Linked DNA regions of Homo sapiens: region 1 is linked to region 2. Evidence: fine-mapped expression QTL. Tissue or cell type: whole blood. Region 2 holds a variant in brackets; the other region holds the start of a gene. All regions are shown on one strand. Distances are between the middles of the regions.

Region 1 (2,603 bases), 120 kb after region 2:
AAACAGGACTGAACCAGTTCACTAGGATGGCAGTGTATTGGTCCAAAGGCATTCAGATTATAATAACGTACCGCAATGATCATCGAGCAGTTACTAAATGTCGGACTTCCCTGTCTTATTGTATACATATCTTAATTTAATCCTCACAAATCCATCGGGTATTATTATATCCATTACTTGACAAGAACGGGGGCACAAAGGGTAAGAAAACTGCCGAAGTTCACAGAGCAACCAATGACCAATCAAAGACTCGAGCCAGGGCCTTAGCGTTAACCACTGCACGGTCTATCCCTGAACTATAATCCCAGCACCATCAGTACACTAATCGCATGACCTTGGGCCAGTCATTTCATACCTCCAGGCCTCCGGTGTGGAAAGAGATGCACTTAGATGAGCTTTCGGGGGCTTTCCTGCTTTTAACGCCCTGTCCCTCTCCAACTGGATTACTCGCCTCCAGAATAGGTGCTGTAACTGCTAAGTTTCTCAACCACTGCGTGTTCTCCTTCTGGTACATTCCCCTTTCTCTTCAGGGAACTAGGGTCCAGTCTCCGCTTTGGATTTTCAAATATTAAACTGTAACGCTAGTTGTAAACATTCCCTCTCGGTCTAATACCACCCTTCCCTACTACTAGGGGTACCTAGTAGGCCCGATTCCACCCTATACTTTTACCCAGTTACTCCAGCCCACCTCGCGGCTGCCCAGGCAGCCGGCAAAGAGGCCTAAGAAAGCCCTAGAAGCAAAGCCATAGGAATAAGTCAGCTTTCCCAGAGGTCAAAGAAGGCTGTCGGGCCACCTGCCACGCCTCCCGACCCCGGCGGCGCGGCCTGGGCCCGCAACCCAACCAAAGACGCCCGGATTCGGGCCTCCTCGCTCACGGCGGGCGCGTCGGCCAGGGCCTGGGCCCTCAAGAGCCAGCCCGACCCCTCAGTCGCCGGCCACGCCCGACCCCTCAGCCGCAGAGGCGCTCCCAGCCCCCCGAGGTCCTCACAGGCCCGAGGACGCGCTCAGGTCTCCCCTCTCACCTCTAGCCTCCCGGGGACCGCGGGGGTGCCCGTGCCCCTTCCCGCCCGCACACCTTGCCCCGCGCCGCAGTAAAGAGAGAGGCGGAGGCGGCCCGACCGTCACGTGCCGCAGAACCAAGAGGCCTCGGCCACCGCTGCCGCGCGAGCGAGCCCCACCGCACGAAGCCCGGCCCTGTGCCCGCCCCTGGCCCCTGAGTAGCCACAGCCGGCGCCAAGTCCCGCCCTCCCGCGCAAGCCCCGACATCCGGTTGGCCGGCGTGGGCATCGCTCTACGCACCGTCCCATACGCCCCCTACGGCTATTCTTCGTGGAGTGTGAAGATTGGCCGGGAGTGAGGCAGGAAGTGGCTGTTGGTTGGGCGGGAGGTGAGGGGCGGGCCACGCTGGATCGAGACCGCCGGGCGCGCGCGTCTCGGGGCGGGGCTGGTTTAACAGGCGTTCCCGCGTCGGTTGCTGTGGTGCCTTCGGGGCGTTCCAACCCAACCCCCAGTAGCCCTCACCCGTCTGGTTCCTGGAGCCGAGACTTGGGACGCATCGCGCGCCCTTCGCTGACGGGGCAAACGGCAGCCGGCAAAAGGGGTAGGAGTCCGACGATCGGCCATCAGGAAGGGCCCGTTGCAGCGAACGCGGGCCCCTACGGGCGTGAGCAGAACCCAGCGCGAGCGCCTGGCCGGATTGGCGTGCACTGCTCCGCGCTGTGTGAGCCGGCGCCGCAGTTCCTGCAGAGTCATGGCTCGGCCCAGGAGCCTGCGCAGCCTCGTCGCCCAGCATAACACACAGTCCAGAATAATATAATCCGAGGTTATTTGAACTTTCAATTTATGTTTCCTGAAGTGAGATTAGGTGTCAGGGCAGAGAGATACAGGGATGACAGGACGAGAGAAAGGATGGTGCCATGGAAAGATTTAAGATACGCCACCATTTTAGTAACCCACTCTTAGTACATCTTCAGTTTTCAGTATGCTGAGAACCTCACAAAATGGAAGTGGCCCAGGGTTTTTCTAGACCTTTAGAGATCCTGATCTCTTGTTCTCTATTTGTTTGGACACCCAAAGGCTTGACTACTAGGGTGGAAAACACTAGAATCAGCGAATGTATCACTGATCTGAAAAGCCCTCTTGCCACCGGGAAGGGGAAGAAAGGCAGGGTTTGGTGTTTGCATGAGTTAGTATCATCCAACCCTCAACCCCCAAATTTTTTTTATTTTTATTTTTTTGAGACGAAGTCTTGCTCTGTCGCTCAGGCTGGAGTCTAGTGGTGCGATCTTAGCTCACTACAACCTCCGCCTCCCGGGTTCAAGCGATTCTCCCTCAGCCTCCCGAGTAGCTGGGATTACAGGCGCCCGCCACCACGCCCGGCTAATTTTTGTATTTTAGTAGAGACAGGTTTCACCATGTTGGCCAGGCTGACCTCAGGTGATCGACCTGCCTCTGCCTCCCACAGTGCTGGGATTACAGGCGTGAGCCACGGCGCCCCAACTTCAGCCCCAAAATTTGTGTAGGAGAATTTTGGTTTCCTGTCTACCTGGGGAAGCAGCTATTCAAAGCAGAATAAAATTCTGGATGCTACATGATCCAAATA
Region 2 (2,753 bases):
TCCCTAGGAAAAATCCCCAGGCACTGGACATCACTTTTTTTTTTTTTTTTTTTTTTTTTTTTGAGACAGTCTCTCTCTGTCACCCAGGCTGAAGTGCAGTGGCACGATCTCAGCTCACTGCAACCTCTGCCTCCCAGGTTCAAGCAATTCTCCTGCTCCTGCCTCAGCCTCCCAAGTAGCTGGGACTACAGGTGCCTGCCACCAAGCCTTGCTAATTTTTGTATTTTTAGTAGAGATGGGTTTCACTATGTTGGCCAGGATGGTCTTGAACTCCTGACTTCAGGTGATCCGCCCACCTCGGCCTCCCAAAGTGCTGGGACTGCAGGCGTGAGCCACCCGCCCGGCCAGGCATCACCCCCTTTTAGCCCTTTCAGACAAGCCCAAAGCCCAGGCAAGAGGCACGGGGGCCATGGGAGGGGCACGCCCACAAGGGGTTTGCAAAGATCTTTCTAAAAGAAAAGGAGTTCAAGTCATGGACAGACATGGTTAGAGAATTCAGTGATGCCAAGTTGTCAGGCCTGAGAGCCCCAGGGACCCTCTCCTACTGGAAGGCCAGAGCTGCAGAAAGAGGTCCCCTGGGCTGGGCGAATTTCTCCAAATAAATTCAAACATGGCCTGCCTCGGGACGGGGGCGAGACCCTGGGCCCTCAGGGGCACTGAGGGGTCGTCCATGCCGGGGGACATGGCCACTTGGGGGCGGCCCTCGTCAACCGCGGAGTGGGGAAAAGGGGGGAGGGATGGAGGACGAACGCCCGGCGGTGTCTAAAGGCACGACGCGGAGCAGGAACCACAGCCCTGGTCCCCAGAAAGCGCGCGCGGCCCGGGGCAGAACCTGCCGAAGTTCCAGCTCGGGGCGCAAGGGATGTGGGGGTCACTGGAAGACGGGGCGCGGGCCGCCCGTGGGGAGGAGACTGGACCCGAACCCGGCCCACCCCACCCGAGCGGCGACGCCAGCGCTGACCCCAGGCGTGTCCCGGCCCCCGGCGCGGCTCCGGCCCAACCGTGCACGCCCGCGGAAGGCCTCGCACCCGCGTCAGAAGTGGCCTGCCCGGGGCCACCGGCCCGCAAGTCCCCGGTGTTCTCGAGGTCCCTGCCCCGTCCCGCGCGGCTGTAGCCGGCGGGAGGGGCTGAGAGGCGGGTCGCGCTGGGACCTAAGGCGCCGCCCCCTCGCCAGCCTCTCCCTCCCTCCGTCACCGGGTGGCCGGAGACCCGGGGGCACTGCTGGGGTACCCCAAAGCATAGGGCCAGCCTGAGTGCGCAAGGTCCTGAAAAGACG[G/A]GGGGGCGGCGACAAGGAGTAGGGAGGGGGGCTGGAGGAAGACGGCAAAGTGACCCCGGAAGGGTCCAGGCGCCCCAAGCCCATCGAAGACGGGAGGCTCTCAGTGGCGCCTGGGGGGACTGTGGGAAAAGCAGCTCAAGAAGGGGAATCTGGAGCGAGGTGGGGGAGAGGTCGGCATGGCCTTCTCTAGGAGCGCCAGCGCCAGACAGAGCGGTGACAGGCCGCACCGGGAGTACCCCGTCTATACTGAACGGGTCAGGAGTGTGGGATCCCGTGGAGGGGCTGCCCTTGCAGCAGGAGCGATGGCCCTCTCGCTCCCCTCCACCTGCTGCCATCGAAAACCTTCTGGAAGAGGCCAGGCGCGGTGGCTCACACCTGTAGTCCCAGCACTGGGAGGCCGAGGTGGGCGGATCACGAGGTCAGGAGTTCGAGACCAGCCTGGCCAACAGAGTGAAACCCCATCTGTACTAAAAATTAAAAAAATTAGTTGGGCGTGGCGGCAGGTGCCTGTAGTCCCAGCTAGTCGGGAGGCTGAGGCAAGAGAATTGCTTGAGCCTCGGAGGCGGAGGTTGCAGTGAGCTGACATGGCGCCACTGCACTCCAATCTTGGTGCCTCAACAAAACAAAACAAAACAAAGAAAACCTTCTGGAAGAATTATCCTCCTTTGAGGATCTAACCCTTCTTGCTCCCAATGCTTCCCAGCAGGGCCCGCACCCCAGGACGGGTACTTACCGCAGTCCCCCACCTCCAGCTCTGCACACTCGCAGCCCAGTGCCCGCTCTTCCCCCTCAGCCTCCCGACGAGACTCAGCTCTTCGACCTCCCTGCGAGTCCCTGTGCACCCACTTTGTTCTGTGCCTGTCCCTGCCCTGACTATGTGGGCTCAGGTAGTTTTGTGGGGTGTGTGGATGTTGCGTGGGAGTGTATGTGTGCCCCGTGTGTCCCATGTGTTATAACCCTGATGCTCTGGAGCAGAAGGCGTGGGGTCATCTGTGGATAAAGGCTGGTATTGAAGCAGGGTCCCCCACCTGTGTTAGGCCACCACATACTCTTGCGTAAAAGTAGGGTGAGGTAAACCCCATGGCCAAAGCTTGGCCAACCAGAGCACTGTAGCACCCTGGTCAGGGATGGACATGTGACCCACGCTGGCGGACGAAATGCACACTGGGGTCATCTGGAAGCAGGAGCCTTGGGGAGGGGGGAATCCTGAGCAGATCAAAGCTTGATCTCAGTATCTGACCCCTGGATCCAGGCTGGCCTAATGCTGGGTTATAAAACGGCTTAAGCCAGTTGATTGTGGTTTTCGTCAATTGTATCCAAGAGTAGTGACCCATGACGTATACCCCATGCCTGCTCCAGGTTTTCTTTTCTTTTTTTTTTTCGAGACAGAGTCTTGCTCTGTTGCCCAGGCTGGGGTACAGTGGCTTGATCTCTGCTCACTGCAACCTCCACCTCTCGGATTCAAGCAATTCTTGTG

What was found. PIP is the estimated chance that this variant, and not a neighbour inherited with it, causes the effect.
Region 1: CANX starts here. The variant in region 2 is fine-mapped to the expression of CANX in whole blood (TOPMed, PIP above 0.99).

Annotation. Positions count from the first base shown.
Region 1 is chr5:179,697,523-179,700,125 of GRCh38, reverse strand. CANX (calnexin) reads right to left here and starts at 1,159. Exons shown (of 15, transcript NM_001746.4): 1 at 1,024-1,159. RefSeq lists silencers at 775-1,064, 1,105-1,514 and an enhancer at 1,525-2,054.
Region 2 is chr5:179,815,322-179,818,074 of GRCh38, reverse strand. It overlaps a transcript of SQSTM1 not described here. Among named protein-coding and RNA genes, the nearest start is that of SQSTM1, 4.2 kb to the left of the region's middle. RefSeq lists silencers at 764-833, 944-1,393. The variant G/A (reference allele first, on the strand shown) is at 1,277.